Linked DNA regions of Homo sapiens. The protein of the gene in region 1 interacts with the protein of each later gene in a biochemical or structural test. Each region holds a gene or a part of one and is shown on either strand. Other genes may lie near its edges.

What was found.
Region 2: the proteins of SP3 (region 1) and VEGFA form a complex in vitro, tested with the Homo sapiens proteins (one study listed by BioGRID).
Region 3: the proteins of SP3 (region 1) and HLTF form a complex in vitro, tested with the Homo sapiens proteins (one study listed by BioGRID).
Region 4: the proteins of SP3 (region 1) and GABPA form a complex in vitro, tested with the Homo sapiens proteins (one study listed by BioGRID and IntAct).

Annotation. Positions count from the first base shown.
Region 1 is NC_000002.12:173,947,825-173,956,101, reverse strand, and holds part of SP3 (transcription factor Sp3), read left to right. Parts: coding exon 1-1,229; intron 1,230-8,277. UniProt on the Homo sapiens protein: Transcriptional factor that can act as an activator or repressor depending on isoform and/or post-translational modifications. Binds to GT and GC boxes promoter elements. Competes with SP1 for the GC-box promoters.
Region 2 is NC_000006.12:43,779,901-43,787,954, reverse strand, and holds the end of VEGFA (vascular endothelial growth factor A, long form), read right to left. Parts: intron 7,224-8,054; coding exon 7,152-7,223; coding exon of another isoform or gene 7,101-7,151; intron 6,000-7,100; coding exon 5,868-5,999; intron 3,415-5,867; coding exon 3,393-3,414; coding exon of another isoform or gene 3,327-3,392; 3' UTR 1,468-3,326; downstream 1-1,467.
Region 3 is NC_000003.12:149,028,835-149,035,018, forward strand, and holds the end of HLTF (helicase-like transcription factor), read right to left. Parts: intron 6,165-6,184; coding exon 6,084-6,164; intron 3,539-6,083; coding exon 3,386-3,538; 3' UTR 1,293-3,385; downstream 1-1,292. UniProt on the Homo sapiens protein: Has both helicase and E3 ubiquitin ligase activities. Possesses intrinsic ATP-dependent nucleosome-remodeling activity; This activity may be required for transcriptional activation or repression of specific target promoters.
Region 4 is NC_000021.9:25,765,453-25,773,718, forward strand, and holds the end of GABPA (GA-binding protein alpha chain), read left to right. Parts: intron 1-3,551; coding exon 3,552-3,780; 3' UTR 3,781-7,008; downstream 7,009-8,266.

The DNA.
Region 1 (8,277 bases):
GCAGTATGTTCTTCCCCTTCAGAATTTGCAGAATCAACAAATATTTTCCGTTGCACCAGGATCAGATTCATCAAATGGTACAGTGTCCAGTGTTCAATATCAAGTGATACCACAGATCCAGTCAGCAGATGGTCAGCAGGTTCAAATTGGTTTCACAGGCTCTTCAGATAATGGGGGTATAAATCAAGAAAGCAGTCAAATTCAGATCATTCCTGGCTCTAATCAAACCTTACTTGCCTCTGGAACACCTTCTGCTAACATCCAGAATCTCATACCACAGACTGGTCAAGTCCAGGTTCAGGGAGTTGCAATTGGTGGTTCATCTTTTCCTGGTCAAACCCAAGTAGTTGCTAATGTGCCTCTTGGTCTGCCAGGAAATATTACGTTTGTACCAATCAATAGTGTCGATCTAGATTCTTTGGGACTCTCGGGCAGTTCTCAGACAATGACTGCAGGCATTAATGCCGACGGACATTTGATAAACACAGGACAAGCTATGGATAGTTCAGACAATTCAGAAAGGACTGGTGAGCGGGTTTCTCCTGATATTAATGAAACTAATACTGATACAGATTTATTTGTGCCAACATCCTCTTCATCACAGTTGCCTGTTACGATAGATAGTACAGGTATATTACAACAAAACACAAATAGCTTGACTACATCTAGTGGGCAGGTTCATTCTTCAGATCTTCAGGGAAATTATATCCAGTCGCCTGTTTCTGAAGAGACACAGGCACAGAATATTCAGGTTTCTACAGCACAGCCTGTTGTACAGCATCTACAACTTCAAGAGTCTCAGCAGCCAACCAGTCAAGCCCAAATTGTGCAAGGTATTACACCACAGACAATCCATGGTGTGCAAGCCAGTGGTCAAAATATATCACAACAGGCTTTGCAAAATCTTCAGTTGCAGCTGAATCCTGGAACCTTTTTAATTCAGGCACAGACAGTGACCCCTTCTGGACAGGTAACTTGGCAAACGTTTCAAGTACAAGGGGTCCAGAACTTGCAGAATTTGCAAATACAGAATACTGCTGCCCAACAAATAACTTTGACGCCTGTTCAAACCCTCACACTTGGTCAAGTTGCGGCAGGTGGAGCCTTCACTTCAACTCCAGTTAGTCTAAGCACTGGTCAGTTGCCAAATCTACAAACAGTTACAGTGAACTCTATAGATTCTGCTGGTATACAGCTACATCCAGGAGAGAATGCTGACAGTCCTGCAGGTGAGTCTTAAGTTATGTCATGCCATAAATAAGTTCAGTGATAATACATAGAGGGAAATTTTTTGCTTTAGGTATTTATCAGCATCAGACTCACATTAGAATTAATGATCAATGTTTGTATGAAAATATGTTTGTATGAAAGTAGACATCAAAGTATCTTCCAAATTATTCTTTGAAAGTTTGTAGTTTTTGAAGTTAGGGATTCATGTTTCTATTATGCCAATTAACATTTATAGTTTTTTCTTAATTTTATATTTGTTTTGACATCTGATTGATATTGTCAGGCATTATAAAATTTTTATTTGGCAGGTAGGGTGTCTTGGTTGGCCTTAGTGTGATGTGAATTAAAATTTTTATGCATTATATTTGGTTGAGGAGTCAGGTTGGTATAGTGAAAACATGGTACAGGGAGTAAATATGCCTCAGCCACTTGCTAGGTGTGTGATTTTGACCAAGTTATTTTTCTTTCGCAAACTCAGTTTCCTTGTTGTGTAAAATGGAGGTGTTGGACTAGGTAACTGTCTAGGTGACCTTCCAGACCAAAAATTCTTTGATTCTGTGATAGTGGGCATTAAACTTAGCTGTGCTAGAAATAGTTGTCAATAGTATGGGTAGACATTTCTGAAGTCTGCTCTTTGAATGTTGTGTAAGAATTAAATAATAAAGTTTAAAAAGAGATAGTGTCATTTTTACCCTATTAATGTTGTCTGTCTAGATAACATTTGATTGAATGTTTTGTTGTGCAGTAAATCCTGAACTTTATTACTTTAATTCTGTTTTGTATTTGGATTTCTGTGGAGATTGTACTACTAACATTCTTTCACCAGGTCAGTGATTCTAAACTCTTAAATTGGGACACTTTAACTGAACTGATTGACATAACTCCCATCACCATTTAAAGATTACCTTTTTTCTTTTGATAAATTTGTGATACATGCTTAGAAAATTGAAATGGTCTTAGAACCTCAGATCCGTATTTGGAAATCCTTTAATTGCATTTAAGCCTTCTGAAGCTGTGATTATTTTTTTTTAGGGGTTGGGATTAGGATTTCTGAAACTGGTTTAGAGCAGTAGTTGTTTTTTTTTTTGTTTTGTTTTGTTTTTTGAGATGGAGTCTCGCTCTGTCACACAGGCTGGAGTGCAGTGGTGTGATCTTGGTTCACTGCAACCTCTGCCTTCTGGGTTCAAGCAATTCTCGTGCCTCAGCCTCTCGAGTAACTGGGATTAGCTCCTGAATAACTGGGATTACAGGTGCACACCACCACATCCGGCTAATTTTTGTATTTTTAGTAAAGATGAGGTTTAGTAAAGATGTTGGCCAGGCTGGTCACAAACTCCTGACCTCAAGTGATCTGCCTGTCTTGGCCTCCCAAAGTGCTGGGATTACAGGTGTGGGCCTCCCAAAGTTCTGGGATTACAGGTGTGGGTCTCCCAAAGTGCTGGGATTACAGGCGTGAGCCACCGCTCTGCTCCTGGCCTAGAACAGTAGTTCTTAAAATGTGATCTGTGGACCATTGGATATCCCTGAGACCCTCTCAGAGGTCCTTCACATCAAGCTGCACTAAGAAATTGTTTGCCTTGTTCTCTGTGTTGACACTTTCAGTGGTGGTGGATAAAACTGCTTGTGTCTTAGCATAAATCAAGGCAGTGACAGCAAACTGTAATAGTTGTTGCTGTATTCTTCATGACCATGCACTTGCAGTTAAAGAAAAATCCCAGTTTCACTCAAGAATGACCTCGATGAACCAGTAAGAAAAGATATTTACTAAATCTTGACCCTTGAGGGCTGCATGTCTTTTAAAAAATAATAGCTTTATTGGGATATAACTCACATACCGTAAAACTCACTCTTTATACAATTCACTGGTTGTAACTATGGTCATAGAGTTGTACAACCATCATCACTATCTAATTTCAGAGCATTTTTATTACCTCAAAAGGAAACCCATACCCTTTAGCAGTCACTCATCATTCACTTCCCCTCAGACCCTGACAACCACTATGCTACTTTCTGTCCCTTCAGATTTGCCAGTTATTTCGTATCAGTGTAATTGTACAATATGTGGCCTTTGGTGTTTGGTTTCTTTCATTTAGCATGATGTTTTCAAGGTTCATCTGTGTCATGGTATGTGTCATTACCTCATTTCTTTATATATGGCTGAATACTGTTCCACTGTATGGATATACCACATTTTATTTATCTACTGGTGGACATTTAGGTTGTTTACACTTTTTGGCTATTATGAATATTGCTGCTGTGAACATTTGTGTAGGTAGTATTTTGTGTGGAAATGTTTTCTTTTGGGTATGTACCTGGGACTGGATTGCTGGGTTATATGGCAATTGGGTTTAACCGGTTTTCCAAAGAGACCATACCGTTTTACATTCTCATCAGCAATGTGTTGAGAGTCCCAATTTCTCTCTAGCGCCACCAACCTTATTATTGCCCATCTTTCTGATTACAGCCATCCTAGTGGGTGTGAAGTGGTATCTTTTTATGGTTTTGGTTTGTAGTTCCTACTGCATATCTTTGTAGTAGTATTTATGATGAAATGGGAAGTATGCCTTAATAAAGCATTTTTGCTGCATATCAAAATAAGAATTGTCTTTAAAAAACCACTTTTTTCCCTCAGTTATGCAGTTCTGTGAGTTGCAAGCTGAACTAGATGCTATTTTCATCAAATACTGTTTTTACTTGAAAGAATGATAAACTGTGGTCTTGAGATTAATGTACTTAAGTGACAGATATTTCCTCAAAAAAAAAAAAAAAATGAAGTGAGCCTGTCATGTGAAGGAAAAAAACTGGAAAGCATTTGCTGCTGCAGATGACAAAATTTGTGCTTTCCAGTGAAAATTAGAATTTTAGAAAACTCAAATCTATTATGAGCTTGATACCTTCTTAATATTTTTCTGATGAGATGGATAGTGATACTAACAAAGCTTTTTTGATACTGTATTTTAATGTAATGTGCTAACACTTGGAAGATCTGTATGATAGTTCAGTGAACCGGCAGTTTTCAGATGACCAACTCATTATATTATAAAATCATGCATGAGTAAAAGATCCATTCAAAGTGCGAGATAGACCAATAACAGTATAGAAAGTTTACAGGTAGTGTCAGATTCCACATTTGGACTGAACTTGAAGAAACTGCCACCTGTTAAGTTTGGTGTAGTATTCAAAGAAAACCCACAATTGGCTGAAAGGATATTAAGTTATTCTTGCCCTTTCCAGGTAGATATCCGTGAGTAGATACTCTTCATATGGTTCAGCCCGAACCATATTGCAAGAGATTGAATGCAGGAGCAGATCTGAGACTTTAAATGTCTTCTTTTATTCACTCTAGACATTACAGAGATTTGTGAAAATGTAAAACATGGTTTTCTCATTAAACTTTTTTTGTTGTTTTGAAAAATGTTTTTCATAAAATGTTAATTTATGTTAACGTGTAATGGATTTATTTTTAAATGAACTAAATTTAAATTTCTGTTTATGATATGGTAAGTATCAGTATACACATATACTACATGAACAGAAGTTTTTTGTGAACGTCAGTAATGTGTAAGTTTGGAAAGGAGTTCTGAGACTAAAAGGTTTGAGTTAAGTGACAGACTACTGAAGACATAAAAGATAGTTTTTAGAAACTAGTTTTTAATGTGTGTACAAAATTAATGTTACAGCGTTCTATAGGTGTTAGAAAATAAATCTAGAAACTTTGATTTTTGTGGATTTATGTTGGTCATGAAATGAAGTTGGTATAAAGCACCAAGTTCTTCAGTAAAGTAATTTCTTTTCAAATGTTATCAGAATAGAAACACTGTGTATATTGAATACAAAATGGAATTTTAGTTTATTGAATGTTGCCCAGGAAGGGTAAAATAAATACTCCAGAAAGCCATTAAATTTGAATTTTGTCCTGATTTTAAAGGAACGGGGAAATTATTTGAGAAAGTAAAAGTTAAAGCAAGTGAGAATAAAAATGCTGTATAAGACATAGCATATTTAGTAATAAATTCATTTTGAGGATATAAACTTTCTCTTGGTATACTATCTTTCTAATTGGCAAGAAGGGAGATATGTTAAGATGCTTTTTCTCACTAGAAAATCAGAGCAAAACATTTTTGTTTCAGTGTTACGTGTAGTATGCCCAGATGAAAATGCTGAAAACTTTGACATCCTTGGTTTGCCTTTTTTACTTTTTTTTTTTTTTTTTAAGAGACAGGGTCTCTGTTTTCTAGGCTGGAGTGCAGTGGCATGATTATAACGCATTGTGATCTCAAACTCCTGGCCTGAGCCTCCTGAATGTGTAGAACTACAGGCTAGCGCCACCATGCCCAGCTAAGTTTTAAATTTTTTGTAGAGATGGCATCTTGCTATGTTGCCCAAGTTGGTCTTGAACTGCTAGGCACAAGCAGTCCTTTTGCCTTGGCCTCCCAAAGTGTTGGAATTATAGGCATGGGCCACTGTGCCTAGCCTGCACTTTACTTTTGATAAGCATGACATTAATGTAACAATTTCCCAAAATAAAGGAGAAAGTACTTTTTTTTTTTTTAAACCAGGGCTCTGGAACTTGCCTTTTTGTTTGTTTTTGTTAAGTTTAAAGGACCCCTTTAACAAAAATGACCTCTACTCGAGCCTGTATTAAGCAGTAAGTCTGACTTTGTTCCCTTCTTTTTTGGGGTACTTTTACTACTCCTTATCCTTTAGAAGGCAAATCTCCATCTTCCTGGAAACATCAGGCGCCAAGCTGAAACCCTACTAATCTTACATATTTCTGTCCATTTGTGGCCCACTGAGAAATGCATGCTGTTTTAGGAAACTTCATTGTTGTCTCATTTTTACTTTATCGTTGCTGTATATTTGAAACTGGGTAAGAGGAGGCAAAGTGTGAATTTATGTATCTTTCCAATGTCAAAATTTCCCCCAAATTTAAGCCAAGACTTAATTCAGTCTCTCAAATTTTAGTCCTCTGTCAGATTTTGTTTTATCTAAAATACAGTTAATCTTTCAAGACTGGGCACATTTAAAATGGAGTCAGGTGTTTGAAGTTGGAAGAAGAGTTTATAGAAGTCATTTCTTCTTAAAAGCAAACAACTTAATGTTTAGAATTCCCCATTATTCATGAAAAACTGGATAGTTGCAGGTTAACTGGTAGCTATCTTTTTTTGAGAAAATAGAAGCCTTATAAAAGGCAGGCTTTTTTAACTTAATATTTAAGTATTTAAAGATTGACAGGCGAAAGAGGGATGGATCTCTTATGGGCTCCTACTCTATCGGGTACTGTTTAGGTGTTTTTAGGTGTATTATCTCATATAATTCTTTCTTACATTAATCTATTTACTATTCTCACGGTTGGATAGGAAAGTAACTGGCCCAAGGCTTCACAACTAGGCTTTGTTCTTTTCACTCTCCTATAGTGTCTTGGCAGTGTGCTCTTTAATTTATATCAGTATTGTATTTTTCTTCCCTTTTTTTGGTTATTTTTATTTCAGATTTTTTTTTTTTCCTTTTTGAGGGTAAAATACTAGCCTTGAATAAAGTATTTTCTACATGGTAAGTGGAGGAAATGTCTTCTGAAACATTTTTATTTGTGATTCTAACAAGGTGAAAGATAAATCCTTACTGATTTTACCTAAGGGATCACTGTCAGAACTGGTTGATTATAGAAATGCACAAATACTGCTAAAAGGCCAACCCTATTGCTTGAAAAGTAGAGTGTATGATGGAAATGTGGTCTTTTTAGAGTTACAAAAAGAATAGACAAAATGTGATGACTATGATCTGTGCTGATTTTAAGTAATTGGTAGATCTCCTTTTGCCCCTCTTACACAACATAAAAGGTTGTTGTGTAAGACTTTTACACTGTTGCTTTCTGTAGACTTTAAAGTTGTCTTATCAAAAATAACCTGAGGATGGTTTATTTAGGTATCATACCACTTAGCTTGGTTATGTCTGAGTTCCTGTTCATTTGTGAATCATGTATGTATTGCATGCTATGGTCTTTAAATTTTAGAAATTAAGATTTTTATTTTAATGCTTGGGGAAAACCTATTCATATTCTGATTTTCCAACGATTTTTTTGGTTTATTAATTTTGAGACTTATAATTATTTATTTTCTGTACTTAAAGTTGATTTGCTTACAAAAGTAATACATGGCTTGATATGGAAAACAAAAACATTATGGAAATATTTAATGTAGAAAGTGAAATTTTCTCTTATCTCTTAGGAATAAGACTTAGTGTCATATATTTTAAAATATTGTCATAATTATACTGCATATACACTTTTTACAATATTGCTTAATTTTTAGTTTTAGGAGGATGAAAATAGAATAGTCGCCCCCCTTATCAGTGAGGGATAGTTCAAAGACCCCCAGTGGATCCTGAAACCTCAGGGAGTACCAAACCCTATATACACTATGGTTTTTACTATATGGTAATGAGTGGGTAGCATGTATAGTGGATAGGCTGGACAAAGGAATGATTCATGTCCCAGGTGGGATGGAATGAGACAGCATGAGATTTCTTAGTGCAAAGAATGGCATGTAATTTAAAACTTGCGAAGTCTTTATTTCTGGAATTTTTAATTTCATGTTTTCAGACTGTGATTGACTATGGGTAACAAACCATTGTGGAAAGCAAAACCTTGGATAAGGGTATAAGGACTTCCTATACTTGCTAAGTATTTAGGTCAAGAATTACATCCTATTTAATTAGCTATTAATATAGATAAAAGTACCCTACATGCAGAAAAACCCAGAGTTAGATTCATTGCTGAAAACAAGAGCCTGGAGTAGGGCTCTTTTTTGTTAAAGGGGAGCTACAAAAAGTTGTTGCTGTTTGTTATCCTGAGGTATGACTTAAATGAAGATTTACGGAGATGAGACGATGATGCAGGAAAATAGGAGGACATCAGCACAGTCTTACGACCACCACATCTGAACCAATCTGAACCATTGAACTGTTAGCTGAGTGTTTGGATTTGTGATATAGCCAGTATTACTGCTTACAAGAGTTATATATGAGTTTTGGGGCTTGCAGAAATGC
Region 2 (8,054 bases), on another chromosome or scaffold:
AAAAAAAAAAAAAAAAAAAAAAAGCACCTACCTCCCAGGGCTGCTGTGCAGATTCAGTGTTAACCAATGTAGGGGTCGGCACGTGGTCAGTGATTGGGAAAGGAGCACTTACTAGACCAAAAGCTGCCTGAGGCTGAGACCTTGCAATGGCCGGCACTGCCAGTCACCAAAGGTGCTTCCCCACCACCAGCACAATTCCTCCTGGAAGACCACAACAGCCTCTACCGGCCTCTCTGCCTCCCATACTGTTGCCAGGCACCTATGGAAAAGTCTATCTGACTGAGCCGCTCAGTGTTTAAAACCCCTCGGCTGCTGCTCATCCCTGACAGGCCCTAGGCTCTTGGCATGGTGCTGCAGGCTCCCTTGGAGCTAACCCTTGCCCGTGTCTCCAGCCTCCACCCTGCCCACCCACTCCCTGCCCCTGCCCAAGTGCCACCTTCATGCCTTGCTCACACTATCCCTTCTGCCTGGGATGTCCTCAACCCTTTCACTCCGCCGCCCCGTTCTCCCTGTCTTCAAACCATACTTTAAGTGGCAGCCTAGAGATAATGTCATAAGACACCACCCCCCAGCCACCACCCCCAATACAACTCCCACTCCCAAGCTAGATCAGATGCCCCCAGCACATTTTATGTATTTTTCTGCTCATGGATTTATAGTTTTGGGTCTCCCCACCCACCCATCCTCACCAGATCCTTGAGGGGTGGAATTGTGTCTTATTCATAGCAGCACAATGACTGGCTCAATATTTATTCAAGCCATATCTATGGTTTGCAAGAATAAATGAGAGGCTAGAGGAAGTGAATTTGGAAGCACTGCCCTTCAGTGTCAAAGACCTGGATAGGTGCCACCTTACCCAGGAGCAGGACGTGAGAGAAGAGCTTATGGCAAGCTGGGGCAGGGAGTGTCCCATCAGTGGTGACCAAACCTATGGGTCCATCTTCCAGAGGCTCAAGGAACTCCAGGGTGTAAAACTATGTAAAATTAAGTTACACCCTGGAGTCACAGCCCTCCAGCAGCATCCCCCTCCCACTCCCAGCCTGTTGCAGCCAACAAGACCCCCACAGACAAAAACAGCTCTCTCCTGTCTCCTGGGCAGCAAGCTTGGAGACATGGCCAGTTCTTTCCCTGGCTAAGGGACAGGGGCCTGGATCATCTAATTCCTGAAGGCAGCACTACCAATTGCAAGGGCCCTTGGCTCCTAAGCTGTTTCTCCCCCTCCACCCATTCCCAGAGCTTCCCACCTTCTATATCAAGACAGGATGGATGGGTTCCCCCAGGACCAGCTCAGCCAAAATGGAAGGACTTTGCCCCCAGCACAACAAGGTGGGTCACCCCATATCCTACACATTAGACGTACCTTTCCCAGACCCAAGACAAATGCCATGTTCCCCAGAGGAAGAGGGAAAGGGGGCGGGAGGAAGTCTAGAGCAAGGATTCAATGGAGAAGGAGAAACCAAGAGGAGCTTTGAGATCAGAATTAAATTCTTTAATACAAAATGCTTTTTTTTTTTTAAGATATATCTGTATTTCTTTGTCGTTGTTTAAAAATAAATATGTACTACGGAATATCTCGAAAAACTGCACTAGAGACAAAGACGTGATGTTAATATCTTTTCCCCACAATTATTACGGATAAACAGTAGCACCAATAAATAAATGATAACAAATATTAAAATTAAAAAAGGAGAGAGATTTAGTATGTAGAATTCTCTATTTTTTCTTGTTTTGTTTTTACATATAAAAAACAGAATAGCAATGTCTATTTTATCAGAATCACATATATACATAAACATATATATATATATATACACACAAATACAAGTTGCCAAATATATATATAGTATGTAGATGTATATTGAAACCTTATTTCAAAGGAATGTGTGCTGGGGAGCCAGGGGATCGGGGAGGGCAGAGCTGAGTGTTAGCAAAATTAAATATCTGTTCAAGATAAGCTAGTGACTGTCACCGATCAGGGAGAGAGAGATTGGAAACATGAATTTTATATACAAAAACCGGTACAAATAAGAGAGCAAGAGAGAGCAAAAGATACATCTCATAAATAGTTGAAATTAAATATTAACCAAGAATACTGAAAAAAAACCCTACTCTTTAATTAAATTAACTGTTTTAATTTCTAATTAAAAAGGGATATTAAATAAGTACCGTATATAAAACACTTTCTCTTTTCTCTGCCTCCACAATGGGCACGTGGATCCTGCCCTGTCTCTCTGTGCCTCGGGAAGGGAAGGGAAGGACCAGGGGATGGAGGAAGGTCAACCACTCACACACACACAACCAGGTCTCCTGGGGGGACAGAACTAGTGGTTTCAATGGTGTGAGGACATAGGTCCTTTTAGGCTGCACCCCAGGAAGGGGAGCAGGAAGAGGATGAGGGCGAGTCCCAGGAAGGGGAGCTGTCATGGGCTGCTTCTTCCAACAATGTGTCTCTTCTCTTCGCCGGGACATCTGCCAGTGGTCTCCTGGGCAACTCAGAAGCAGGTGAGAGTAAGCGAAGGCCGCCCAGGCTCCTGAATCTTCCAGGCAGTGCCCCTGGGGGCGAGATGCGCGTGCAGCATGTGGAGGGAATCCCCAAAGCACAGCAATGTCCTGAAGCTCCCCAAACTCCTGGTCAGAGCCGGTGTCCTCATCCCTGTACCTGTGATCTGTCTTTCTGTCCGTCTGACCTGGGGTAGAGAGGCTCAGCGCCAGGGCTGGGTTTGTCGGTGTTCCCAAAACTGGGTCATATTTGCCCCCATGCCCTGGCCTTGCACATTCCTGGGCAGGGGAGAGGACCCTGGCCCCACCAAGTGGGACAAAAAAAAGATCATGCCAGAGTCTCTCATCTCCTCCTCTTCCCTGTCAGGATCTGAGTGGGAACATTCCCCTCCCAACTCAAGTCCACAGCAGTCAAATACATCCAGTGAAGACACCAATAACATTAGCACTGTTAATTTAAAAAAAGAATATATATATTTTATATATATAAAATAGAGATATTTATTTTTATATATATATAATATATATATATATAAATGTATGTATGTGGGTGGGTGTGTCTACAGGAATCCCAGAAATAAAACTCTCTAATCTTCCGGGCTCGGTGATTTAGCAGCAAGAAAAATAAAATGGCGAATCCAATTCCAAGAGGGACCGTGCTGGGTCACCCGCCCGGGAATGCTTCCGCCGGAGTCTCGCCCTCCGGACCCAAAGTGCTCTGCGCAGAGTCTCCTCTTCCTTCATTTCAGGTTTCTGGATTAAGGACTGTTCTGTCGATGGTGATGGTGTGGTGGCGGCAGCGTGGTTTCTGTATCGATCGTTCTGTATCAGTCTTTCCTGGTGAGAGATCTGGTTCCCGAAACCCTGAGGGAGGCTCCTTCCTCCTGCCCGGCTCACCGCCTCGGCTTGTCACATCTGAGGGAAATGGAAAACAAAGGCTGGGGTTAGGGCCAAGTGAGGAGGCCTGGCGATGAGGCAGGCGGCCTCCCCATTCCTGGGGGCCCCTGGGTCACTGCAGCCTCCGGCACCATAAGAGCAGAGAGGACAGGAAGGTGTGGTCCTGGGGCAGAAAGCCCCAGTATGAGAACAGCCCCAGCCCTGCCCTCAGGGAGCCCCGGCCTGAGCAGCAGCTCCACTCAGGGGCTCCCAGTCTACCCTCCTGAGCTTGCAATCTACTTGAGACAAGACAAGGACATGGGAACACTTTACAAAGCAACAAATGAACGGATACCAAAGAACAGTCCCCACTTGACATTTTAAGAGCTGATGGGTGACCAGAGCTGGATGAAGTTAATCAGAAGAGGCTCCCTGCTGAGGAGGGTTTTCAGTTCAGTCTCTAGGGGCTGGTGTGGGGAAGAGAGTGGGCAGATCTTCTGGGAGAACGCCTGAGGCAGAGAGGCTTGGCCGGGTGACCAACAATGGCAAGGGCCTGCCCTGGGGACAGGAGGCTCCCGAGGGGGTAGCGTAGAGCAGGAGGCCCCAGGAAGGTGAGGGACCATCTCCATTCCCCATGTCCCCTCCCACTGTGGCTGTAGGCCTCATCTCTCTTGAGCTGCCTGGAGGTTGCAGGCCCAGGTAACAGGTTGTCTTTCCTTTCAAATATGCTGCTTCACTTAGGATGGGGAGAGACAATTCGGCGGCTTCACTACTCCAGCTGAAGCAAAGGGGGCCTCCAAGAACTTTCTCAGCATGCCCCTGCCCCTGGGTGATTGTGAGAAGGAGGCAGAACAGGCCCTACCCTTCTGGGGAGCCCCGAAACGGAGTCCTAAGCCTCCAATTTTGGAAACTGATATTCCCAGATACAGCCAGCTTGGGGGTTGGGTAAAGGTATTGGGAGGTTAGAGTAACTTCAGTTAGCTCCCAGGTCACTTCACACAAACCCCCATCAGCAGAATAATCACCTAAAAACCCTAAAATGTCAAGTCCCTTATCTTTCCCAAGGACCCCTGGGGAACTGAGACTCCCCTCATCCAGCCCTGAAGTTAGGCAGAGCCCCCACCCCAGCACTAATATACGCCCTCTTGGTTTCACATAGGGCCAAGACAGACAGCACCCCACACCAACTACCCAGGCCTGGTTCCCAGCATCCCCTGAGCACACACAAGCCACAAGAACATTGCTGGGGGAGGGGAGACACTCCAAGGACTTCCCTAACACAGCCTCGGGGTGAGCTGGGGGTGCCTTGGCCCTGTCTAGGAAATCCCCACAAAGTCTTGCCTCCCTGACTGACGCTTACCCTGACCCCCAGGGCCTCCCTCACTCTGAGCACAGGCCAAGTTGGTATAAAGAACATAAGCTAAGGCATTAAAAGATGCCAGCCACCTGTCCCGACCCTGTGCTCCTGACCTCACCCTCTGAACTGAGTCACACATTCACTCATGCACTTGACACTTCCTTGGTCCCCAGTATGGGCAAAGGAAAGAGGTACAGATGCCCGGGGCTCACAAAGGTACGTAAACGAGGCCCGGGCTTACGGAGCTCACAGGCTAATGTCAGGAGAATGGGCACAGACCCCTCCCTCCACGCATCCTGGGGGCACTTGAAAATGTGTGGGCTGCTTGGGGTTGTCACCATGACTGGTGGAGGATTAAAGGTATCTAGTATTCTTGGATGCTACAGCTCCTTCAGTGTGTAGGCAAAAGTGCCCCATCCTAAACGAACAGCCAGACCCCTTGCCCTCAGAGCCCCAGTCTGAGGAGGGAGACATAGCCCTGGCCTGAGGGAGCCTCAGTCTGAGCGGGGAGACAGCCCTATCAGGGAGCCCAGGTCGGAGGGGAGAGACACAGCCCTACCCTCAGGGAACCTCAGTCTGAGTGGGGAGACACAACCCTTTCCTCAGGGAGGCCCAGTCTGAAGTGGGAGACTCAATTCCTTCCCCCAGCAAGAAACACTGAGTGAGTGAGAAGCCCAGCCATGCAGACTTCAAAGGGCCGAGGCAAGGCCCCAGCGAGAGCATCTGTGCTTTGTTGACATTGTCCACACCTGGAATCGGCTTTCAGCTTCTCAGCATTACTACCAGAGGTAGTAATAACATCAGGACCAACAGCCACTATGAGCAGAAGGACCACAGGACACAACACACAGCTTGCGTCCACACCACTACACTAAGCCACACCAGCCTACCACTCAGGCAACCAGGGCAACCTCGGAACAGGCCCCGCCAGGCTGGACCAGTGCCTGCAGCCCACCACAGGGGCCTTAAAAGCAGAGAAGGCAGCAGTCACCAGGCAGGCAGCTAGAAACTGAGCAAGCAGCTGGCCCCTCTCAGGCGCTCTCCCGCTCGCTCGCTCGCTCACTCTCTTTCTCTCTCTCTCTCCCCATCTCTGTGTGATGCCCCTCTCTGACTTGCTTGCCCTCTGGGAACCAACCTGCAAGTACGTTCGTTTAACTCAAGCTGCCTCGCCTTGCAACGCGAGTCTGTGTTTTTGCAGGAACATTTACACGTCTGCGGATCTTGTACAAACAAATGCTTTCTCCGCTCTGAGCAAGGCCCACAGGGACTGCAAAAAGGCAAAAGGAAAGACATCTAAGCTAGAGCATCAGCAGAGAGAGAGAAAAAAAATCACCATGCAACACCCCCTAACATGTCCGCAGCTGCACCCCCACCCAGCCGGTCAGCCCCCAGGCCCTGGAAGGATCCGAGCGCTACAGCAAAAGACAGAGAGAGCGGCGGAAAGAGGCAGCACTGGCTAGGACACCTGCCGCAGGAAGAGGCGGGCACAGACGGGCAGAGAGTGCAGGGAGAGGCTGCCATAAGGGGCAATGCTGTGTCTCTGGGAGACAAGGGTGAGTCTCAGGCCACAGGGACCCAACTGCTGTTGCCCCCATCGGAGCACGCCTTGACTCTTCACCTGCTGGGGATGGCAATCAGGGGCCACCTTCTCCCCGTGCAAGGCTCATGTCCAGGCCCTTCCACCAAGGTGGGCTAAAGTAGGGTGTGATGGGAGGCTAAGCCCGGAGGCGGTGTCCCCAGGCCAGGCCGCTGGTGGCCAGAGGGCCCAGGGCAGGGCCCACCACAGCCTCCGACCCAGAGGAAGAGGCTGCCCTGCAAGGAGGCCTCTGTGGGTGCCATGGGTTGGGCCGGAATAGGGGGCTCCCCTCCAGAGGCCCCACCTCCGTGAGGAGCCAGGGCACTTCCACCAGATGAAGGGAGGCCGCCACATGGTGTCTGATCCCACCCAAGCTCCTCCTTCAGCCAAGGAGTCATTCAGCAAGCTGCCTCCAGTCATTCACAGCCCTTCTTGGGCCATGTCTGCCCTCCCCACCACCCTCAGCTTCCAGACGAGTGCAGAAGCCTAGAGCAATGGAAACCAGTTGGGTGAGCAGGCACCTGTGCCAACATGGGCCCGCCACCAGTGCCCAGTGGGTGAGAGAAAATCGGTGCCCAGCCAAGCCAGGGTCCCCTCCCTTAATCCTCCAGGCCAAGTCGGCACCCCCATTCACCCCAACCCTGGACCAGCAATGCCACCACCAAATCTACCCGTTGGTGCCAATTAGTGGAGTGAGAGAGTGAGAGAGAGACACGGGCCAGGAGGATGAGAGCCAGGGAAGGACCAGGGGAGGGAGGCAGGGTTACAGGGAATGGCAGGCGGAGGTTGTACTGGGGGCCAGGGAGGCTCCAGGGCATTAGACAGCAGCGGGCACCAACGTACACGCTCCAGGACTTATACCGGGATTTCTTGCGCTTTCGTTTTTGCCCCTTTCCCTTTCCTCGAACTGATTTTCTGGAAAATAAAAAAACAGAGACAGAGAGAGAGCGGGGGCGGTGGGGGGAGTAAAAGAAGTGGTAAGGTGGGCAGGGATGGGGGAACGACCAAAGCAAAGCCACACAGGGCCGCTTCCCGGAGGAAGTGTCAGGAGGCAGGTGGTCTCTGGGGAGGCATGCGCGGGCGCACACAGGCGTGTCTGGGCAGCAAGCACTCGATGGCTCTTTCTTCTCCTCACGCTGCCCACCATGGGATGGCAAACCCAGCCCCTGACAAGGCTTTGGTGGGAAGCCGAGACTGGGTGGAGGGCACAGGACCCAAAGGTCTCCACACTCACAGTGGCTCCCAGTCCCCGGCAGGGGGCAAAGCCTGAGGGAAGGCTCTTTGCCCAGCAGCCCTGTCCAAGTCTGACCCTGAAGGTCCGGGGGTGATAAAAGGTAGGCCAGACTTTGGGGAGAAGGTCAGAGACCTGCCTGGATGGGGAGCAGGAGTGGGAGGGAGGGCTGTGTATCAGGCCTTGTGCCTTCATTTGCAACTGCGACAGAACCTCTGGGAATCCCGGTGTGGGGGAAGCGGCTACCTTGGGAGCTGGCACGGAACCAAGAGCAACACCAGCCTGCTCAGCACGACCTGGACTGGGAGGCAGGGCTGGGTGTCCTGGAGCCCTGGGCAGGCAGCAGGATGGGGTGGGAGTTAAGGAGGTCTGGGGAGGAGAGGCTTGGGCGGTACTTGGCAGGGAGTTCTCTCCCCAGCCTGTCAAAGCCTGCTACACCATCTCACCAGACACTCTTCCGAGCCCAGGCGAGCCCCCTACTCTCCCCATGGCAGAGCAGTCATTTGGGGAAACAG
Region 3 (6,184 bases), on another chromosome or scaffold:
CTCAGCCTCCTGAGTAGCTGGGACTACAGGCACGCACCACCACGCCCAGCTAAATTTTGTATTTTTAGTAGAGACAGGTTTCACCATGTTGCCAGGATGGTCTCAATCTCTTGACCTCGTGATCCACCGGCCTTGGCCTCCCAAAGTGCTGGGATTACAGGCGTGAGCCACTGCACCCAGCAAATTTTTAAATTTCAAATAAGTAGTGAAGGCTATTATTAACTTTTGGAATCAGAAAGAATGACAAGCTTACCATAAGACATAGCATATAATGCTGTCAAGTTATTTGGCTAGAAAATCACTGAACTAAACATTCTTTTCCTTCTATGATCTATGTCTTAAGGTGAAGTATTAACTAACTTTTCCATGTAAAGCTATACAAATATTGGAAAATCTTTTCTAGGGAGTCCAGAATACTAAGGGTTACTTAGTAAAATGTATAAAAAGGCAACAGTAATTCAAATTACAAGATTTATATTTGCAGAGGTGATCCATATATACTTATCCCCTTGCAGTGGCTGGTATGACCTTTGGTTGTAAGACAAACTTGCCCACAACAGAGGTCAAATCCATGCCTTTGGAGATTAGCTCCATGGTGGATGGAGCTATGGTTTATGCATAAAGTAAATGTTTGTTTACCTTAATTCTCCTTATACCCATATTGTCCTGCTGTATAACACATTTTGCAGATATTTTGAAGTTAATGTGTTAAAAACTTGAGGTTAAACATTTGAGTTTTTGTTAAGAGCCAAACATCAAATGTGCCCTTATATTTTTAATGAATCTCATCCAAATGCTAATGCATAAACCTTGACAAGTAGTATAAATAAAACAAGAAAAAAATACAGCAATGTCTTTGCCATTCCCCAAAACAAAGCACACACTGCCGAAGATCATTAGTACTCACTGGTAACAAACTACATAGGGTTAGTTTGTATTTCCAATTCTAGAGCTGTAATTTTAAGGACAAAATGTACAATGATTGATTAAGAGTGCTATCTGTGTATATATAGGTATTATCACAACTCCTTTTTTTCTTCCAGATGAAGAAATTAATTGGGACCAATGTTTTTAGATCAAGGCATTTTAAATAAGCACTCTTGATTTCTGAACAAGAATTTCAACCAGCTAAATTGAGCAAAATAAAGTTAGTTAGGATATGAGGACATTATTCTGTTACAGTAATCTTCATGTACTCTCAAAAAAATGTAACACTTGCATAGAAATGTCACAATTAATGAAGGATTTTATTTGAAGATAAAGTCAAAATTATGGCACCGAGGAAGGTAATAAACATTTGAAATTTTTATTGATTTTTAAATTTAAAATCCAGTTTTAACCACAAAATTGTTTGAATCACAAGTGGTAATACAATGTCTTCAATATTTTTCTAAAGTTATTTTTCTATATAATAATAAGACAACAGCATAGCATATAGGAAGTTTTCATTCCAGTGGCTTTTTTATATATTTATCCTTCTTAGGAAGGACAAATTAAATTTTTTAAATTAAACTTTTAAAATATAACAACATCTAACAGAACTGTACAAAACAAAGAGACATTTTTTAAACAACTTGCCAAACTTACTTATGAGTGTGTTTTAAAAACAACTTTGTAAATGTCTGGGCAAAGAAGCAAGCTGTCCTCCCTTTACCTTCATAGTGAGTTTGTAAGGCTTTGTCTTTGTAAGCAGAAAGAGTAGACTGTGTTGTTTTTTGCCAAAAACTGTTTATACTTAATCTCACTGAAGTATTGCTATATGGAGAACCCATACTCTGATCAACTTGATTTTTTGTGTGTAATGCTTGATCTACCAGGTAACTTCCCAACTGCTCCTAATGCTAGCGGGCTAATCCCACATTATTATTCCACTATCATCCCTGCAGAAAGGTCTTGGTTTTGATGAAAATCAGCCCTTTCCTTACCTGCTACTGCCTCAAAAAGGGACCAGGAAGATTCTAGCTGGCTAATTCACTGTTCCCTTTGAGCAAGAAAACGGCACAGGGAGAAAAGGACTTATCTGGTGAGAGATTTGGCATATACCTTCAATGTGTGCCCTATAACACAACATTGTCTCCGATCTCATCTTTCTATCAAATGACTTCCAACACTCTTAAGTCTCAGGTATTCTTAAATCTGTATCATCAAACATGAAGCTTCTCTTGTTTGTTAGAGTAATTAATCTTTCTTTGGATTAAAGTTTCCCTTTGAAATAAAACCACCTACCTAATCTGACTGCTAAATTTCTAGCTTCTTTGTTTTAAATATGCTCAGGAGTCAACCCAAATTCTGCAGCAAATAAGTTTGCTTATTAACAAAAAAGTAAAAAAAAAAGAAAAGAAAAAAGATGACTAATTCTACAGATAGCTGTAAGGATGAATTACTCAAGTTCAAAATCAAATTCTGATTCTAAACACATAACAATTGTTTACATTCAGGATTAAGATGTCTTTAAGAGTTGAAACGACTTTGGAGATCATCCAGCCCAACTTCCATCCAGATATCACGCCTCTCACATATAGTAGTCTTCTGAATTATAAAAATTTATAAAGTTACTTCCAAAAAAAGCTACATAAATAAAAATTATCTATTTATAGAAATATCTATTTAGCAGTTCCATAATTTAAAATATTCAAATCAAATTGGGTAGGACTGGTTTGCCTCTCACTCCCACAGACTATATTTATACCTCAGACACAGCAAGTTACATTTAAACAATGAGTGTAGTACTACTTAACTAAAATGGAAAAAATAGTACTCTTAACATAATCCCTAATTTTTTCATGAACATAAAACTCCAAGTCATTTATGTGAACTATATCTCAATGTAGCTGTAGGAAAAATAAAAACCTGTGCTAACCTGGACTTTGGTCTCATTTAAGATTTGGTTCTGGAATGCAAATATGGTTTTTGAAAGCCCAATAAAATTAATTCTTGTATAGTCTGTATATATTGTTTACAAGGACTACAAACACTGCATCACAAATCGGAGGCTTTGGTAAATAACTAAGTGTCCAACATAGAAAATAACTATTTGGTCAAAAGTATAAAAGGTCTGACCTTATTTGAAATACGAAAAAGCTGAGTACTTGGAAGATACGTGAAAATACTCAGCATAGATATTATGAAAAGCTGAATAACAAAGTAACCTTTTTTCTCAAATTATTTCAGGCCACAGTATATAACGGAACTTATTGCTATTTGAAGTTTCATTAAAAATAGGTTCATATATAGAAGAAATTGTGTCAGTAATACCTCTTCACTAATATAAAATATGCCCCTTTTAGAAGACGTGTTCTCTAGATCTCATTTCTAAAACTCTGTATTTTTCTCATTTCTAAAACTTAAGTATCCAATCAAACTGACCTTACTAAAATCCCACAAATTATAAGTCAATTAATGTTCTGATTTCATTAATTTTGGCTTGTTTCATTTCGTCAGCATTTGGTTTTTTAGTTCCAAAGGCTCCTGCTGCAAGTTCTCTCTTTTTGTTTTGTATTTTCAGCATATTTTCTTCAACAGAGTCCTTTACAATGAACTTTAAAAAGAAAAAAAAAAGTTAAGTAGTTTTTAAGGCATAGTATTTAAAATCTTTATTAAAAAAACTAAATGAAAGATTTGCCTAATGGCAAAAACCGCAATTACTTTTGCACCAAACTATAATAACTATTTAATAGAACTGAACTTTGCTTTCCTTACCCAATATGGTTTTCTTATATAAAGAATATGGCTGTACGAATAGAAGTTACAGATCACAAGATAAGCAAAGCAATAAAGAAAAAAAAAGCAAACTATATAGGCAACTCTGGCAAAATGACTTCAGCATTGTATTAAAAAGGCCATTCTGGCCGGGCACGGTGGCTCACACCTGTAATCCCAGCACTTTGGGAGGCCGAGGCGGGCAGATCATGAGGTCAGGAGATCGAGACCATCCTGGCTAACACGGTGAAATGCCATCTCTACTAAAAAATAGAAAAAGTTAGCCGGGCATGGTGGTGGGCGCCTGTAGTCCCAGCTACTCGGGAGGCTGAGGCAGGAGAATGGTGTGAACCCGGGAGGCGGAGCTTGCAGTAAGCCGACATTGCGCCACTGCACTCCAGCCTGGGTGACAGAGCGACGTCTCAAAAAAAAAAAAAAAAAAAACAAAAAACTATTCCCAGAAATTCAAGAATGAATCTTTAGTATAATTCACAACACTAACAAAGAGAAAAATAAAACGTGATCATCTCATTCCTGATAAAAACTTGATTTTAAAATACCCCAACTAGGAATGAATGTCTCAACCTTACATATTTAATGTGAAACAATAAAAGTATTCTACAACAAAACAGAAACAAGTCAAGAATGGTCACTATCTGCTACTATTTAACATTGTTTAAGAAGACCCAATTACTGCAATAACTAAAGCTATATAATAAAATTTTACTGAAATACATATAAGATCTACATAAATGGAGAAAGGATACTATGTTCCTGTATGGAAACATTCGTTACTTATAAAGAAAGATAGTTCTCGAAAGTAATAATAAATTCAATAAATCTCAAGATATCTTAAATGGGATTTTATAACTAAAATCTAAAGTTCAATTCAAGAGCAATAATAATAACCACCAATACAATTTTCAAAAAGGGTCATCAGAACATTTTACCCTATCAGGTATCAAAACTTACTTTAGGAAACCATAGTTGTTATAAGAGTAATACTGCCCTAAGAAAAGGAAAAGAGATCAATGGAACAGAATAGTCTAGAAAAAGACCCAAGTAATATATATAAATTAGTTTATGATGAAAGTGACATTTCATACTAGTAGGGAAAAAGTTGGAATTTTCAAAGAAAAAAAATGATGTGACAGAACAAATCGTTCTTCATCTGATAAAATAATAAGCTTAGACTCATGTCACAAATCATAAAACAAAAAATAAAATCTTCCAAAAGAACCAGAAGTAAATACAGAATAGTTGAAAAAATGTGAAAATAAAGCCTTCTGTCCTAGGTAAGACCTTAAAACCTAGAACGTATAAAAAAGGCTGACGTTTTAAATCATAAAAATTTTAAAGCTTTTTCATGACCAAAAAAATGCAGTTTAAAGACAAGGAAGAGTATGGGATAAACCATTTTCAACATACATAAACAAAAGATTTCAAGTCAGACTGTATCAGGGAGTCCTTTATACTATAAAACTATTTGTACCATAACTATGAGAACTGGACAGAAGATATAAATAATTCACAGAAAAAATGTTAATAAACAAGATATGTGAAATATACTCAAGGTTTTAGGTAAATGCAAATTAGAACAGCACTTTTTTGGCCACAGAAGCATAAATTAACAATTTTCATATAAATCCTATTTTGAAACCAACTCGATAGTTGATAAAAATTCTAAATCCAGAATTCTAGTTTTCTTAACTTATCCCAAAGAATTACTTGCATCTATGTGAAAAGATTTATATATAATAATGCTCATTATGGCACTGTTTTTATTAGCAAAAAACTTAATGGGTTAAATATATTACGATATATCTATATGGTTTTGTAGAGTAGTCAAATTCAGAGAAAGAAAGTAGAATGGTAGTTGCCAGGGGCTGGGGGGAGAGGAATGGGAAGTTATTATTTAATGGATACACAGTTTCAGTTTAAGATGATGAAAAAGTTCTGGAGATGGATGATTGTGATGGCTGTTGCACAACAACATGAATGTACTTAATGCATCTAAACTGTATACTTCAAAATGGTAAATTTTGTATTTTACCACTATTTAAAAAAAGTGTTCATCTAAATGTACTTATGAGGTAGTCTCCAATGTATAGTTTTAAGGGAAACAAATATGTTGTAGAATAAAGTATAATTCCATTTATCTTTAAAAGAATGTTTTTAAGGAGATGTACACATAACTATAAATGTAGGTGCAGAGAAAGGCCCCTTAAACAGCATATATTAAATTATTGATGAAGGAGGAAAAAGGTGACTTATATTTTGCTCTGCATAATTACACTCAATCATAATAATATATTCATGCATTACTTGCTTAATTGTAAAAATCGTATCAACCTAGTCTTAAAATAGTTTGTTTAAAAACTCACTTTTGTGATGATAACTTCTTGCTTCTGACCAAGTCTATGGCATCTGTCAAAGCACTGATCTTCAGCAGCAGGATTCCAGGCCTAACAAGAACATGGATGAG
Region 4 (8,266 bases), on another chromosome or scaffold:
GATTATAATTTAGCTCACACACACACACTCTCCCTTCCCCTTTCCATCCCTTCATCTCAGTATCCCAATATAATTATATGGAAATTTTGGTTCAGCGAGTATTCATTGTTACAGTATTACGGCCATGTAACTATTATTACATAGTTGGCTGTGATTATTTTTCTTTTCCTGAATGACCCTTTTTTTCTCAGAGTTCATGAGTAACTAAAATGTTTAGTTTTCAAAATGCTTATCCTTTACCATTCAGTCTCAAACACATTGCCAACTGTCTAAAGATTCTTCGTTTATAATCATAATTAAAGCTGCCATTTTTGAGAGTTGATACAGATTGTATACATACAAGTCCCCTCAAAATTACAGGTAAATTGTTAGAGTTAATAATTAAGATGTCAGTTCCCCCCCAGATTGATCTAAGTTTCAGTGCAGCAACTTAGTTTAATTTGAAAAATCAAACTAAGTTTTTCATAGAACTTGAGAAGATAATTGTAAAATTTACATGGGACTATAAAGTACCATGGTAGTCAGGACACCTGAAGATTAGCAAAGTGGAAAGACTTGTCCCACAGGATATTGAGACTGACTCTAAAGTTACAGTAATAAGACAGTTATGCTATTTTCTCAAGACAAATAGGCCATACAGTAGAATAGGGAGCCAAAATAGAACCAGGAATATGTAAGCATTTGATTTAAAGAAATGGCAGTGGGGAGAAAACATATGAGGAAACGACCTGCTTTTCAATAATCAGTGCTGGGATAATTTACTCTCCATCTCTGGGGAAAAGTAAAAGTTGACCTCTTGCTTATGCCGTACCAAAAATCAATTCCATGTAGCTTGTAGCTCTACATGTAAAAAGTAAAATAGAAAAGGATCTAGAAATACTTTCATAACTTCTGGTGGTAGGGAGACATTTAAACAGAATCAAAAGGACTAATTCTAAAGGGAAAGATCAATAAACTGGACTATATTTAAATTAGGAATTTCTGTTCGTTGAAAGCCTTATTAAGAGAGCCACACATGTCGGACAGAAGTATCTAGAATATCTAACCAATTCTTACAAATCAATTTTTTAATGGGCAAGAGACTTGAATAGACACCTCAGGCTAGAGATTATCCAAATGGCCAATGAATATATGCAAAGGTGTACGGCCTCATTAGTATTCAGAGTAATGCAATTGAAAACCATAATTAAATGGTACAACTCACCCCCTAGAGTGGCTACAATTTAAAAGATTGCCAGAACTAAGCTCTGTTGAGGATATGGAGCAATGGGAATGCTTCTACCCTTTTGATAGGAATGTAAATTGTAACAGTTGCTCCCCTAAGCAACTGTTTCATACACATCAAACAGAGATGTACTTCTATGCCCATACACATGTTCATAGCAGATTATTTATAACATCCAAACCCCAGAAACAACCAGATATCTATCAACAGTAGAGTGAATGAATCATTTATGGTATATTCATACAAGAATACCTTGCATTCTTGAAAACTAAGCTCCTGCTACAAACAATGACCAGTGAACCTCACAAACATAATGTTCAGTGACAGAATCCAGACCCAAAAGACCAAATTCTGTATGATTACATTTATTTAGTAAAGTTCAAAAAACAGGAAAATTAAATTTCAGTATTTAGGGATGCATGTTTGGGTGATAAAAATATAAAGAAAAAGCAGTCAAATTACTATCATGATACAGGCTTGTGTTTACCTTTTAGAGCCAGGATTTGGGGAGTGATTGGGAGGGGACATAAAGGGGATTCTAGATGCTGGCAGTGTTCTGTTTCTTGACCTGAGTGATACTTAACAGGTGAGTGAATGTTCACTTTGTAATAAATCACTGAACTGTTCACTTCTGTGTCCTTTTGTTTGTGTGATATATTTGCAATTAAAAAGTTTAAAAAAATACAAGTTTAAAAAAAAAGAGGGAAGAAAAGAAATCATATCCATGAAATACAGGTATTGTGTATCTTTCATTTTAGGGAGGCAACAAGTGGAATAAATGCTACTATATACAGTTGTGTGATGCATCTACTAGATCAAAAGAAGTATTCAGTAAAATTCAAATTTATGTGTGTATATTCTTTTTTATCACCTCTTACCAAGAAATATGATTATGCCAACTCCATTTTCCTCCTAGAATTATAAAACCTCTTTCCTTTTCCATTTTCCTTTTTTTCCCCACGTATAGTCTTACATATTAATGTAGAAATTTTTTAAAGCAATTGATATGCCTATAGCATTTTTAACTGGATGGCAAGGAATTGTTGGTTTATGAGCTGAAATCCAAATTCTGTACTAATGTAATTGACATAAATGGAAACTACAAGACTGCCCAATGTGTTATATCTCTTACTGGGAAATCAAACATAACTATTTTTCTTTTGCTATTCTGGAATTAGGGAAAGATGACAATTTCCTGTATATAGGTCAGTCCTTTCATTAATAGACTCTTGATTAAGCCAAGTGACTTTTATCCTGCTAAATGTGATAGTTTATATCTGGTACTTTTGCAAATAGTTGTTTCTTTTATAATAGCCCTTTGTCAGTGGGCAGTGCAATTTTAAAATAAGGGCTTTGCAATCTGCCAGTCGTGGAAAGAGCTTGACTTGCCTCTTTTTCCTGTTGTTGGAATTAGCAATACATAGTGTGTGTTTAAATAAAGTCTGTTTTCCAAAGGAAACATAAATCCAGCTCCATTTGCATCTCTATAGAATGCAGCAGTAAACTAGATTTCTAGAATGATTGCCGGAACTCTGCTTGTGTACGTTTAGAAACATTGTCTCTTTGCAATGTCCTTTACCTGTTTTTCTGTATCCTCTGTTTCTTTTAGACCTTTTCCTTAGACTTAAAGCTCCCTATTGGGCTTGGATAATTTATCTGAAATTTGGAAAGCGTTTACATAGTGAAATAATAAAGATGAAGACATGACTTCATCATATAGGATTCTTTACAAGACAGAAAAGAAGTGGAATATATGTATTAATTTTTTTTATATTATCGATTTTTATTAACATAGCTTATATTTTGTAGAGGGCTGTGTGCCAGTCATTGTATACTAAGCACTTTACAAAGATTATCCCTTTAATCCTCAACAATGATATGAGGGTATAAGCACTGTTAACCTCACTTTATAGATGAGGAATAAAAGCTTTGAGAAAATATGACTCCTGTGGTCTCAAAAATGTTAGGTTTTGAATCTTGGCTTTCTGACTCCAAAGCTCTTGTTCTTAGGCTCTTCTACTGCTCTCAAGGTTTTTTGTTTTGTTTAATAATTATTTTTAAATCAATGTTTTATTCTAATTGTTGAAAATATGTTTTGAAAGTTTAATGTATAGAGTTTTGGAGTAGTGAGCATTGAAATTTTAGTAAATAATGTTGGGATGTTTCATTTGATAGTAGCATTAAATATTCTACATAGCTTCAATATTAATTGCTATTGTGGCGGATGCAGTACTCTACTAGGCTTCTGCTTATGGAATAGTCTGTAAATTATTGTAAGAAGTCTCATTTTTTCTGAAGTCTCTAATTTTTTTTTCTCTTTTTGAAGATATTATTACGATGGGGACATGATTTGTAAAGTTCAAGGCAAGAGATTTGTGTACAAGTTTGTCTGTGACTTGAAGACTCTTATTGGATACAGTGCAGCGGAGTTGAACCGTTTGGTCACAGAATGTGAACAGAAGAAACTTGCAAAGATGCAGCTCCATGGAATTGCCCAGCCAGTCACAGCAGTAGCTCTGGCTACTGCTTCTCTGCAAACGGAAAAGGATAATTGAGCCCCAGGACATTCTGAGACTCCAAAGTCTTTCTTAAAATGTTTAGAGCAAGTATAGCTCTTACCTTTATTACTGAATTTGAATCTTCTTTTATTTCTAGGCTGTACAGTCTGATGCATGATTTTTTTATAAATATTTCATACTCTTGTGAATTTGGATCTTTTTACTTTGAGCATATATTTTAGAATATGTGTATGTTAAAGGATCTCCACAATGTCTGCAGTGTGAAGGCAGGTTCATTGTGGAATAGTTTAACAGTCAGGAAGGCTAAACTGGTCAGTATTAATGTGTAGCCCTACCAAAAATAGCCAGTAGTATCTGAAAATGAAAAATAAATGAAGTATCTCTAGGAAACAGTCTGGCTTAACTATTTTTGAAAATATAACTGTTTCCCCTCTCTGCTGCTTTAGATGTTGCTTTACATAGAACCAGAAAATGGAATTTCTCAGCTAAAGCATGTGTGCCTGTTTCATCTAATCAAGCAGAGCTAAAATGTTCATACCGAATAAATTTATATTAATAAATTACTAAACTAAGAGTATCAGGTTATTTATATATTTGCAAGCAAAGGACAGTAAGAAGTTGACTGGCAAAAGAGCAGTGCTGAAGGAGGAGATCCAGGTTTAAATCTGGCTTATTAACTCAAGCCAATTTTAAGGATTTTCTGTATAGATTACTCATGTCAGACCAAGAATTTAAATTATTTTGAGAGAGGCATTTAATTCTAATAAACCAGCTGTTATAAAAATTATAAAATGATCTCTGTTTTTCCTGTCAGAGATTTAAAAAACTGAAAAGGTATACCTCAACCCAAAAATAAAGGTTTGTTTTGGTTTGTTATGGCTTCCTTTTTTAAAAAATTACCCTGTAGTGCCAGTTTATTATGCAAAGCAGCTTATATTCCTTTGTTTCTGATAAAATGAAGACTTTAAATCAGTCAGTAGTACTTTACCTTTCAAGGCATTAGTAAATTACTTGCAAATAGTTTTAAAAGGAAAATACGACCTTTGTTATAGGCAGTCTTCTCTTTAAGACAATACTTTTCCACTTGTTTTCCTTTTCCATATTATATATGTGTATTCATATAGCTGTATACATATTCAGTTGATCATTTTATAAACATATGAAGGCATAAAGATATACAGAAGAAAAATTATTAAACAACTCATTTTAAGATTCAAATTAACTAATTCCTGCATATATGACATTCCTTACATAAGCGAACACTAAACAAAAATGGCTAGAAATGTCTTTTTCTTTCTTTTCTCTCTTTGTTGTTTAAGGTATTAAGCACGAATTATTACATGAGACTGGCAGATAGCTATTAATCCTCTTACAGATTTGAGAAAGTTGATTCTCAAATATTTATGCACCTTCTCCTTCATTGTTTTCTTTAAATCTGTCCTCTTAAAAAGCTTCTTAAGAGCTCAGTTAATGCTTTTGACTTAACTAGGAGAAAAAGGCATGATAATACAGGCAAGATGGCATTGTTAGCAATTCTGGTAGTGGTTTGGAATGAATCCTAAGAGGCAGGGATCTTAAGGACAAGGAAGAGAAGAGAGAGAGGGAGGGATCTTTGATCTCTTTCTCTGGTAATCTTAATGCATAATTTTACTAAAACATGTTCTCAATTCATTCATATTATTAAGCTCTTCCTGCAGTTGATATCTGAGCAGAGTAAGATTTGTATTTCCATTTTTACTTTTTTGAAAGAGAATATATGGACAGATTATTAGTACAATTTGGGCACTGTGGTTTTAAGAATATCTGAGTAAAATAACAATATGAAATAATAAACAGAAGCTCTAACGTCAGGTAACAAATAGACAGCAAGAAAGGTTTTGCACCATCCTCTTACGGCCTAGAGAGTTGACAAGTTGCTTGTAGTTTTAAAAAAATAATAAAGTATACCCTTCTGGTATATCATCAAGAGCTTAAGAATCTTGGCTTTCATATTTAAAATGCTTTTGGGGAGACATATATTAAAATTTTAGCCAAGATGATAGACATGTCTCAATTATATATGTGTGTGTATGTTTTTAAAGCTAAAAACATTACTTTTAGATCCCTAGAATGAAAATTTTTTTCTCATCTATGCAATTCCCATATGGTTTTTTTTTAAATCATATTTTATTCATTTTCTCCCTTTAGCAATTTTCATTTTATTTCTCATAATTTGAACAGAGACAGTTCTCATACATGATCAGATGCTTTTTTTTTCTTCTTACCATCATTTATGCATGACATAGGTAATGTGACTAATTTCTCCAGTTGATTCAAGAAACTCATTACTTTGCCTCAAATTATATGTAAAATATTTGTTTTACTTAGGTTACAGTTATCAGAAAGGTAGTTTTTTTCTTCTATTAAAATATAACATTGTGAAAGAAAATAAAATTTATGCTATTCTTTGCTTTGTTTTTATAAATGAATTTTTCATAGAATTTACAGTATATTCAAAGGAAGAAAGATAAAATTATTGGTCATCATTTGTACCTTAGAAGTACAAGAATTTAAGTAAAAGAAATGTTCATTTTTGTTTTAAAATTTGTTTTCCATGTGAAGTTTTTATTGAGCCAACTTTCATACATATCTTGCTAGCCTAAAGTCTAAATATTTGTGTTGGCATCAGAAAAACAAATGAGGCAGAATTGCTATGTGTGGTTGATCTTCAGATAAATTGACTGATCACAGTTATTTTTGTATCAGTCTATGTTATTAGGAAAAATTGTTTAGTTGTTTTCTCCCCTGATTAATGGTGATATTCAAGTATGATACAAAAAGAATTGTACCACCAAATATTTTTGTGAGGTCTGCTGTTTTCCATATTCATTTTATGCTACTGCCTTTAAGAAAGAACTAGTGTATCCTTGAAATAGCACAAAAATGTTTTAAAATTCATAATTGCAAAACAAATCTGTGACTAACTTAATGTCTTCAGATCTAAAGGGTGTAAAAATATTGATACTTCAATATTTCACTTGCTGCCAGGAAAAACAAAATTCTCAATCTTTTGTAAATGGGAGGAGGACTTTTGCATACATTTTTACTCTTTAAATAACGACAACGACACTTATACTGTCATAATAACAATTATGTATTTCTTTGTGGTTTTAATTTTTTTTGTAATTTTACATAAAACAGTTATTTTCTATTTTTACGCAGATAAATATTTGTGCATAAAATGTAAAAATAGTAAAATGAGAAAAATAAAACTATTATACAGTATGTTTCTGTGTTGCTTAAAAGTTTTTTTTCCTGAAAACAAAATCTTAAATCCCCAGGATATTTTGTTGGATAGTAATCTGACAGTCCACTTATGATACGTTGTACATAGGATTCCGATGCATTTTTAAACTTAAAAGCTGTCAATTTGGGAAGAACATATTTCACTGAACTAAAATTAGTAGGTTCATCTCTTTGAGGAAATTAATGAAATTCCATCTACAAAGCCAAGTTGTTTTAGAATAGTAACAGATGAAGCTGTCAGAAGGCAAGCTGATGATTGCTAAATTGTAAACCTTTCATAAAGCCTTTTTTTTTAACAAACAAAAAATCACCTGTTCATGTTGGCTATCAGCAGGTTGCTTCAGCCAGAATCAGAATATAGAAGAATGGAAAGGGTTAGGAAAAAGTGATTCATGCCTGCCTTCATGGTGAAGCAATGATGAAAGTTTGATTGACATGCTTAAATAGGAAGTTATGGTTAGAAATAAATGGCTTTAAAAATACACAGTGTGATTGTATCTAGTTCGAAGCAATCAAAAACCATCAGCCAGGACGCTAGTGAGGTATGTTTGTTCTCCCAGGACTTCAGTTTTTTGTGTGTACAGCTTCAGAGTTTAATTTACAAGCCAAGTATGTGTTTAAAATGCTTTTTACTGATAAACTGACAACTTTAGAACACTGCTTTTAAAAATTTCCGTAGTGAAGGACCACTTTCTTATTTCCAATTTGTCACAGACAAACATCTGTAAAATAAAAACTGAATTAGTACAGGGAGGGGGAAATGGGAAGTTACTGTTTAATGGGCATAGAGTTTCAGTTTTGCAAGATGAAAAACAAGATGGTTACACAACTATAAACATGCTTAACAATACCAAACCGTATTAAAGATGGTTAAGATGGTAAATTTCATATTATGTATATTTTACCACAGTTGAGTTTTTTTTTTAAAGAATGAATTACTATAAGAATTTTAAAAATTCAGTATTTACCAAATTAACAATACAATGGGGGAGGAACACATTCAACTCAATAGATGCAGAAAAATGTACAACTTGACATCCATTCATGATTAAAACTCTCAGCAAACTAGAGAACTTCTTTAACCTGATAAAAAGGTATCTGTGGAAAAACCTACAACTAACATCACGTTTGTTGCCCCTCACCACTCCGCCCCCCTCCCCACAAGATTTGGGAAACGCAAAGAGGTACCTGCTTTTATAATTTTTATTCAGAATTGTATCCTAGTCTGTGAAATAAG